2 linked regions of the Homo sapiens genome follow. The protein of the gene in region 2 interacts with the protein of the main gene of each other region in a pairwise test. Each region holds a gene or a part of one and is shown on either strand. Other genes may lie near its edges.

Region 1 (3,692 bases), on a different chromosome or scaffold from region 2:
GTTTACAAAGTATTCAAACAAAATAAAGTGGGTGTTTAATCCCAGATTTAAGAACTCTGACACAATTAAATACAGTGGATATAAGAACTCTTTCTTATCTATGAAAAAATTTCTAAATGACCCCTATATACACTTTAATGACCTGGTTGTATTTCAATGAAATATTAACAGTGATATGCTTTTTTAATGTCACAATCCAAACATTGTATCATTTAGCCTAGCCTTCTTTCAGTGAGGTTTCATTACTGTGTCAGTTTTTAGTCTTTTTGCTTAGTACAAGTTCTCCAAACTCACTCCAGCCTTCACCGGGAAGGCTTTCATAGATTAGCACCACTAGCTGATATCTTCTATTAGGGACATGATTCTGCTTTCCCATTTTTACTAAAATTTGCTGGTTCTCATCCTCCAGCCCCTGCGCAGTTCCTGGGACACCCAGAAATTTTCTCGTTAACCCCATACTAATTAAAATCAGGCACCTCTCAGGGTATTAAGTAGACTACAAGGCAGGTCTTGTGAACGAAATTTTTTATTTACACACTGTATCTAGAAGCAGATACATAAATTCTTATACAATTAATTTCCAAAAATGTGCAAGAAATTACTATAATTTGTTTACAAACCAAAACACGTATTAAAATCAATGGACTTTGGATAATTCATTCTGTGGTGTTCTCAGTACAAATGGTACACACCTGATTTGAAACATACAGAAAAAGTGTAAACTACCGCAATCTGAATTGCAAGTATTAATTTCATGGCACTCCAACGACTATGAAATTTCTTTCACCCAACATGTAAATACTTGTTACAAAATTCTATAAGAATTTTTCATAATCTCTGGATGTAGAGTTTGGATCACTTTTCAGAAACAGCAACTACACACTTCGCCATGTTATGACTGATTAATAAAAAGAATGTTTATAAAAACCCTTCTTTACAGGATTAAAAAAGTATTAAAAGAAACCATATTTGTGATTGCTAGTGTACCAACACTTTTAGAATTTTAAAGTTATTTACGGAACTGGCTATTGTTCCTTATTAGAGTTTTCAAGAAAACTGTCTATTGCTGGTAGTGTGATTTCATTTTGAAATTAAGACTTCGCATTTAATGAAAAGCAATTAAGATTTAAATGAAAATGTATTATTCCGATTCATTCATAAAGCAGTATCTCTCATATACAATGTGAAATGTAATTAAAACTGGCATTTCTGAAAGCATTGTTACAAAGATATTTTAGACTTGTAGCACTAGCAGAGACATTGCATTAACCTATGTTAGATTTTATAACTTTTATCCTGTTTCAGTAATACTGGCTCAAGAATTACAACGCATACTTTGGGTTTTGTTTCCTTTATGCCAATGATTTAGCCTTTTGGAACTGTTTTCTTCAACAGCAAGATGGTTGGTTGCCCCGTGTAGCTGGTTTCCTTAAAAACTATTTTTAGGTCTATGATCATTTCCTGTGACATATTTTGACCTTCTAAATTTTCAGATTATTGCACCAAGTAGAAAGAGTTTTCCTTAGACAGAAAGAGAATTAGATATTTTTCAAGTACTTTCTACAGCCTTCTTCTTATTTATAAAAATGCATAATAGTGTTATAGTAAGCCTAAAAATAGCTTCTGGCCTCCATCATATTTCGTGATGAAATATTTAATAGAAAACAATTCTGATTCATCTATTATGGCAAATGGATACAGCTTTCCTGTTTTCTTTTTCTTGCTTTGAGCTCAGATTTTTAGAAGCACGTATTTAAAAAGCACTCATAGGCTGTGTCCATGTCATCTATGTTAACTGCCAATAGAATCCTAAAATTTAACCAAATTGTGTCTAGACCAAACTAAATGATGAGTTTTCTCTCTCTCTTTTCCCTGTTTCCACTTTTAACTGGACTGTGTTAGTATCATATAAAGCCAATCTTTCACATTCTGTTGTGCTGCCTACCCCAAATGGTTATCTTTCTACACAAAAGTAGAAAATATCGCAAAACATCTTTCTGCTTGTAAATTTAACTTTTTGGCAAATAGTTTGATTTTATCATTATACTATCAGAATCTAACAATTTCAAACTAGATTAGAATAGGGCATATTAAAGTATATATTATGAATATACAAAAGCGCATCAAAATTTGGCTTTCTGAATTAGAACAGTATCAAGACTGTCCTCCACTAAAACACAAAATACAATTTTAAAAACATTTAGATGAAAATCTCAATAATCTTGACACTAAGCGGGTAGATCTTAAACACATGGCATGATGAGAAAACGAAGGGAATAGGTTATGTCCACATAAGACGGGTTCAGGGCAGTCCAAAGACCTCTGTGCACCATGATCTCACAAGGAGGACATGTAAATGCTTCTGGAGACACGGAGAAGCCATTTCAACATTTATTATTAATACACAGTGACTCTGTGACAAAACCTGCCATCTAATATAGATGCACAGGGACTTTTAACTCACCCTAGATATACTTTAAGTTGTTTTAAAAATAAATAGTTTTGCAAAAAAATAGTTTAAATGTCTTGCATTAATTTGATAACAAGCTTACAACTCTGCAATAGTTCTTAATCCAAATAGCTTATAATGAACACTTATATTATTACAGTATACTCCATATTCCATCTTATTAGGAGAAAACATATGAGAAAATGAGAGTCTTTTTAACAAGGTACAATCAACATCCCACCAAAATTAAGTACCTTTTCCCCTTTAAGTCAAAATACCATAACACCATAATATTATGGCATTGTGCCTTTTCTTGGTAATATCTCAGTTCTGACCCTAAAAAGCAAAGAGAAAAAAGTGAGGATTCAGATATGCTTGAATGACAAAGCCAGTAAGTTTGACCTAAACCTTTACCCTCATGTTTAAAGTGGGTAAGAGACTTTTCCTATCTCTTCCTTTAAGTGACAAAGGAAGAACCATCCCAAATTACATGTTTCATCTGAGATAGAAACATTTTCCTTTAAAGGTGTGTAGCTGAAAATTTTCTGGACAGGGCAATCCCAAAATACTACATCCATTGCAGAACTGTGAAATGAATAAACACTCTGCATTACAAAATAACTAAAAATTATTGAATATAACATCTCTCCCCAACAACCGACTCAAGGAGATAAAATTATTAGCAACGGCAAATTACTTAAGACTTAGCTAAATTTTAAAAACCTATTTTTAAATGGCAGTATATATGATAGACAATATGACTTCCACATTATCTAATATGGTTTAGAATTTTTCTCACATTGTGAGAAAAATTGCTCCACAATTTCCACAATTTTTAAACTAAAGTCATCACGGGTTCTCTTTATAGTGGGGGTAAGGATTGGTCAAATCCAGCACACTTTTATAGTAACTACATAGAAGAAAAATATAAATCCAACTTTAAAACAATGTTTTCTTTCTATTCAAATCAATTTAAAACTTTTTATAAACATTAATGTTGCAAGAGAATCCAGTCCATTTATGAAAATTAGTTGACAATCAAGTTCACCCAAGAAAATGTTGACTAAGCTAAAGAAATCACAGATAAAACATTTTACCAAAAGGATAGGTAACACACAAAAAAATGCTATCACAGGAAGCTATGATCATCTAATATTTCTTTAATAATAATTCTAGTTCCATAGGTTTTCATGTTATGCCAATTTGTACCCGAGTTTAATTACAGAAAAGGCAACAATTTCTA
Region 2 (7,037 bases):
ACCTGGGGAAAAGAGCACTGGTTCTGTGTCACTTTTAAATCCCACCAACCTAATGTGGGAGTAGGAGCTTCTTTCCTAAAGTACTTGGGCAGCCCTTTAGGGTACAAGATACAGGACCCTAACCCACTGATCTACTAATGTCTAGTACCCCCCTTTTCTTTCCCTTCTATTTCCCCCATTCCTCTTTTTGGGGGAAAAAGATCCCCCCAAAGCTCAGGGGATCTTTTTCTAGATAGTGGTGGTAATAGGGGTGGTGGTAGTGAGATCTCACTCCTGTTCATGGCCCATTTTCCAAGATATTTTGTTAATAACTCAATCTTTCTTCTCTGAAGAGCCTAGACTTGAAAAATTCAAAATCTATAAACAGTGGCTTTTCTCTCTTTGTTTTCTGTTAGTCATTCTTTACCTAAGTAGAATGACCTCTGACTCAATAAAGTGCTGACAGGTGGAGGGAGGTAGTGTATTTAAAAAAAAAGTGAGAGTATAGGGGCAGCATTAATAAATGCTGTGAAAACACTATATTGTATATTTAAGGGGCAACAAGCACAAGTTTATTTTTGTCTCTTCTCCTCAGTGTCTGACATTTGGACATCCCGGTGTACAATTCTCAAAAAAGAGAGAGGGTTCAACTTGTTATTTTTTTAAGGAGACGGTAGTTATTCTTGGTTTCTTTCCATATAGGGCCATTCTAGTGCATTAGAGATTTGTCATATCAGAAGCATTATGTTCATATACTTTTACTTTCCCCCCTTCTGTATGCCCCACAAAAAAACATGCACATGGAAGAAAATTCGACATCCAACTTTGAATCATTCATTTCCATTTTAAGAAGAGTGGTCTTTGTTTTCCCCACCCCTGGGAAGAGTGGTCTTTTATTTCCTTTTTATAATCTTGGTTGTTAGAGCCTTTAGCAGGCTTCTTTGTAGAGTTAAGAATTTACCATAATTAACATAAACAGTGAGCCATGTTTTGAACTGAAGCAGCATTATGATTTTCAGAGGTCCACGTAAAACAAATACAATTGAGACTTTGTTTGGGGAGGAAACATTATCAGGGACACTTTCACACTCTACTAACAAGAAGGCATCCACAACCTTTCTGGGGTAAAATACTTTGTCTTTTAGCAACTTAGAGTTAACTAAAGGGATTTGAAGTAAATAGAGCTTGGAGGTAATTAACACAATATGCTTTGAATCTGATAAACTTAGGTACGTTTTGGATGATGAGTATGTCAGTTCTTTTGGAGCCAAGTTCCCAATCAAGTGGTCCCCTCCTGAAGTTTTTCTTTTCAATAAGTACAGCAGTAAATCTGATGTCTGGTCATTTGGTGAGTGCATCTGATGTTCACTTGCTGGAGCTTGATTTAATAAAATGGGCAATGTGTTATTTTTAACTTTGATTTCCTAATTGATATAGCATTTTTTAAAAAGTCTTCTTGTAATTGTGCTTCCTTCTGTGTGTTCTAACCACATCCCGACTGTCTTTGGCAACTGGTGTCACATACCTTCTTACATAAGTCTGCCTTTTGGATCTTTTCCTTCCTCCATGGGCACTCACTATAAAACCATAACAAAGAGTCTACTGATCTAGAAAACAAACTCAGATAAGTTTTCCACTCCGCAGAGGCTTGAAGGAAAAATGATCTTATGACATTGTTTAGAGTGTAATTAATAAACTTAATTGTCTAAACTGTGAAGCAGGTTGACTATTTTCCAGTTGTTCAGTTGTTAACCTGAACTTAAAACCTGAGTTTAAAAAATGGTGGCATCTCATTTACTTCCTTAACTTTAAAGTTTGTGGAATTTAGACATAGGCTTCCTTGGGATCTATAAATTGATATTCATATTGGATAATGTTCTTCATTGAGAAAGAGACACCATAGACCCACGTCCAATGAAGTTTCGGGGTTGATTTTCAAAAAATGGTAATAAATATGCAAAAATCTATCTATCCTCTTTCACCCCAAACTTCCTGGAGGCTTGTGGGTTCTGGGTCCTCAGAAGGGTGTCAGTTTTATTGTCTACAATAAGGTTAAAACTGGGCACAGTGGCTCAGGCCTACAATTCCAGCACTTTGGGAGGCTGAAGTGGGAGGATTGTTTGAGACCAGGAGTTCAAGACTAGCCTGGGCAACCTAGCAAGACTCTGTCTTTACAAAAAAAAAAAAAAAATTAGCCAGGTGTGGTGGCATATACCTGTAGTCCCAGTTCCTCGGGAGGCTGAGGCAGGAGGATTGCTTGAGCCCAGGAGTTTGAGGTTATAGTAAGCTAGGATCGTGCCACTGTACTCCAGCCTGGATGACAGAGCAAGACCCTGCCTCAAAAAAATTAAAACATAAATTTAAAAACATACAATAAAGTTAAGCTTGTGTCATTAATCTCATTAGCTCTCCATGGACATATGATAGTCTCAGCAGGTGACACTTGAAGCTCTACTGAAGAGCAATTAGGTTGTGAGACCACATCTTAGAGACCAATGAAGAGCAATATAACGACCTCATCGAAGGTTGCCAAACAATTAGAACTCCCTGAATTTTACCTACTTGTCTCCCTCACTGAACAGTGAGCTCCTTAGGCACATGGATTGATCTCACACTTATAAAATCTCCAGGCCCCAGCAGAGGCCTCGCCTCTCATCAATGTCTAGTAAATATTTGTAGAATAAGTGAATAATTAAATGAACTCAAATTAGGAGTTCTTGCAGGAGTTTCACTAATCAATCAATCAATGATTATTGGACATCTACTTATGTACAGAGCCCCTGCTAGATATTCTGGGGCTCTGCCCATCAGTCTAATCTTTTAGCAGAAAGAAGGGGACACATGCCATTTACTGGCTGAAACTCTTGGCTAAGTAGGCAGCAGAGGCTCACATAATCCTGTCAGTTTCTATGGAATGGCAGAAAGGTTCATTGATTTCAGGATGCAGGAACGTGACTGCTGCTTAGAAATGAAAATGCTAGGCCGGGCGTGATGGCTTACGTTTGTAATTCCAGCACTTTGGGAGGCTGAGGTGGTCGAATCACCTGAGGTCAGAGCTCGAGACCAGCCTGGCCAACATGGTGAAACCCCGCCTCTACTAAAAATAGAAAAATTAGTTGGGCGTGGTGGTGGGCACCTATAATCCCAGCAACTCAGGAGGCTGAAGCAGAAGAATTGCTTGAACCCGGGAGACAGAGGTTGCAGTGAGCTGAGATCATGCCACTGCACTCCAGCCCGGTAGACAGAGGTTGCAGTGAGCTGAGATCATGCCACTGCACTCCAGCCCGGGCGACAGAGCGAGACCCTGTCTCAAAAAAAAAAAAAAAGAAAAGAAAATGCTACTGGCATTTTCTCCTGATAGGAGAGGCAATCAAGACCCATGGACAAGGAAAGGCATTGTTTTCACTTAGATTATTTTCAGGTTACAGGCCTCTTTGAAAACTAAAGTGAACATGATTTGCTTCCTTGACAGAACCGCTGTTATTCAGGATGGTTATAGCCCAAAGCCTGGAGCACAAAAATAATGCCTTGTAGTTTGAAATTGTTCTTTCAGTTCCCAAGCAATCATTTCTCTCTAACCCCTTGTTTTCCTGCATTTTTGTTTGCAGGAGTTTTAATGTGGGAAGTTTTTACAGAAGGAAAAATGCCTTTTGAAAATAAGTCAAATTTGCAAGTCGTGGAAGCTATTTCTGAAGGCTTCAGGCTATATCGCCCTCACCTGGCACCAATGTCCATATATGAAGTCATGTACAGCTGCTGGCATGAGGTAAGCATATGTTACTTTCCTATGAAGGTTGGCAGTCCCAGCATCTGAGAGCAGACCTGATTATCACAAACATTACTTCAGAACTCTGTCATGGCAGGAAAAGGCATCTGTGTCTTGGTCATGATCCTGAGAGTCTGAAGTACTATCTCAAACTCACTACAAAGTCATGAATCCATTTTGTTTTGAACAATGGCCTTTTATCTGAGGAATTCAGTGCATTTTCTGAGTCTTATCTGTTTGAGATTGGTTCTTGCAGAAACTCTTGGTGTTACTCAAGCCTCAGTGATTAGATGTTTTATTAGCTTTAAGAATTAATGGGCCGGGCGCAGTGACTCATGCCTGTAATCTCAGCACTTTGGGAGGCCGAGGCGGGTGGATCACCTGAGGTCAGGAGTTTGAGACCAGCCCAGCCAACGTGGTAAAACCCCATCTCTACTAAAAATACAAAAATTAGCCGGGCGTGGTGGTGCATGCCTGTAATCCCAGCTACTGGGGATGCTGAAGCAGGAGAAGAATCTTGAACCTGGGAGGCGGAGCTTGCAGTGAGCCGAGATGGCGCCACTGCACTCCAGCCTGGGCGACAGAGTGAGACTCCATCTCAAAAAAAAAAAAAAAAAAAAAAAGAATTAAATGATGGAGGCTGTGTGTGGTGGCTCACGCCTGTAACCCCAGCACTTTGGGAGGCCGAGGTGGCCAGATCACTTGAGGTCAGGAGTTTGAGACCAGCCTGGCCAACATGGTGAAACCCTGTCTCTACTAAAAATACAAAAATTAGCCAGGCCTGGTGGTGCATGCCTGTAATTCCAGCTACTTGGGAGGCGGAGATAGGAGAATTGCTCGAACCCAGGAGGCAAAGGCTACAGTGAGCTGAGATTGCGCCACTACACTCCAGCCTGGACAACAGAACAAGACTCTGTCTCAAAAAATAAATAAATAAATAAATAAGCAAATAAATAAAAGAATTAATGGTGGAAACTAAGGGTAGAACCAGGCTTGTTAAATTTCCAGGTTGAAAAAGAAAGATGGTGTTTCCATTTACTTCACTCAACTTTGCTTTGTCTTGCTTTTCCAACGCTAATAGTAATGGGTTTCATCTGTCTTCTGGCAGTCAGGACTCCTGCTACAGATTAAACTAGAATAGGAATGGAGGCAGAAAGTGTGTCAGGAACTTCCACTCAGGAAGAAATCTCTCCAGAACTTAGTTTTTCTATTTGTTGAAATGCCAAGCTTAGAAATAAAGCCAGAGGGGCTTCTTTTCCACCTCTGGGCACTGACTCAACACACCCCTGCCCTTCTCAGTGAAATTCCCTTTGATTTTGAGAGCTTTGGTCTCTTTCCAGCTGACAGTTTCAGCTGGAAATTGCAGCTTGATGAGAAGTTTCCTCCTGGCTGAAAAAATAAAGCACTTGATTATCAATCCACAAACACTAGAATATTGAATATTTTAAGAGTGATGTGGTTATTCATATTCCAAAAGCATTACATTTATAGAGAGCCCCAATGTATGAAAATATTTTACATATATTAACTACTTTACAAGGAATCTTGAAAGACATAGAAAAATGCTCAGCAAGCTGTAAGAAAAAAATGTTCAGAAAAATGTTCAGTGAGTAGTAATAAGCAGCCGTTTTAGGAGCATCTTTGCAATAACAATGTAAGTAGCTCAGAAGTATATGTTGTGTATGAAATAATACACACGTGTGTGTGTAATATAATGCTTATTGAGATGTTATATGTAAGTGGAACTGAGACATAGAAGGAGGAAGGGAAGTGATAAGTAGGATGCTGTCAGAAGGACCATGTAAACAACATTTGTCTCAAATTGCAATCAGAACATTGATTAATACAATGGTGTGGTTATGTCGATTTATTTGTTTGAAAAAGTTGATTTGGCCGGGTGTGGTGGCTCATGCTTGTAATCCCAGCACTTTGGGAGGCTGAGGTGGGCGAATCACGAGGCTGGGAGTTCGAGACCAGCCTGGCTAACATGGTGAAACCCCGTCTCTACTAAAAATACAAAAAAATTAGCTGGGCATGGTGGCGGGCACCTGTAATCCCAGCTACTCAGGAGGCTGAGGCAGGAGAATTGTTTGAACCTGGGAGGCAGAGGTTGCAGTGAGCCAAGATCCCACCATTGCACTCCAGCCTGGGTGACTGGGCCAGACTGTCTCAAAAAAAAAAAAAAAAAAAGAAAAGAAAAGATTGATTTATTTTTGAGACAGAGTCTTGCTCTGTTTCCCAGACTACAGTGCAGTGGCACAATCACATCTCACTGCAGCCTTGACCTCCTGGGCTTACGCAATCCGCCCAGCTCAGCCTCCTGAATAGCTGGGACTACAGTGATGTGCCACCATGACCAGCTAATTTTTTAAAATTTTTTCTAGAGATGGGGTCTCACTTTGTTGCCCAGGCCTCAAGCAGTCCTCCTACCTTGGCCTCCCAAAGTGCTGGGATTACAGATGTGAGTCATTATGTCAGGTGCAAAAGTTGATATTGCCTACAGCTTTACCCCATGTGCTTAGGGCATTAGAGTCAAACGTGATTATGCTATCTTTGAGAGACAAATTTCAGGATTCATGCGCAGAAACAGGCTCCTCACAGAGCTCCACAATTTATGCCCAGAGTCTCAATAAGGACCCTCACTTGCACTTGTGCTGTCTTCTGCTCTGTTTATTTTACTGATGCTCTCTGTTTATAAGCCATGAAGAGGGGTGTCTTTCCGCTGACCCTACTGTCAATGACCCCTGTGAGAATGTGGCTACTATGAGTAGCTCTGTTTCCCATGGTTTTAAAAGATGCTGACAGTGCCATCTCTTCTTCCTCTTGGAATCAGAGCTAAACCACACCCCTAAGTGAAGTAGGAAAAAATGCTCCAATCCTTGGCTCCATGACCAGGGATATGGGGTCACTTATGGTGAATATCTTCCTTTAGAGTTGCTGACTCAAAAACTGTGCAAAGATCACAGGCTTTTAAAACTTTTTAAAATGTAAGAATATTCAGCAATCATTTTTCTATGTGTGAGAGGGACTTCCACACTCTTATTTTTCTGTTGACTGAGACTGAAAGCACAACCTGTGCCCCAAGACCTTCAAAGTCCCTCATGAAAACATGCCTTTTGCTTTCTGACTGAAATCCTCCTTTCTATAATGGCTCAGGTGTCATAGATACCCTGAACTGAGCTTGGGAGCCTGGTATGCTAGATGCCCCTTCTCCCAGCCCTTTCTTTACCTCACACATGTCAAGTCATTCAAATATATCTCTAGGGTCGTGGTGTCCTAGAGTACTTTCTGA

What was found.
Region 1: the proteins of TXK (region 2) and SOCS6 interact in binary tests that used the Homo sapiens proteins (3 or more experiments, as listed by UniProt).

Annotation. Positions count from the first base shown.
Region 1 is NC_000018.10:70,327,016-70,330,707, reverse strand, and holds the end of SOCS6 (suppressor of cytokine signaling 6), read right to left. Parts: 3' UTR 509-3,692; downstream 1-508. UniProt on the Homo sapiens protein: SOCS family proteins form part of a classical negative feedback system that regulates cytokine signal transduction.
Region 2 is NC_000004.12:48,068,225-48,075,261, reverse strand, and holds part of TXK (tyrosine-protein kinase TXK), read left to right. Parts: intron 1-1,208; coding exon 1,209-1,327; intron 1,328-3,587; coding exon 3,588-3,745; intron 3,746-7,037. UniProt on the Homo sapiens protein: Non-receptor tyrosine kinase that plays a redundant role with ITK in regulation of the adaptive immune response. Regulates the development, function and differentiation of conventional T-cells and nonconventional NKT-cells.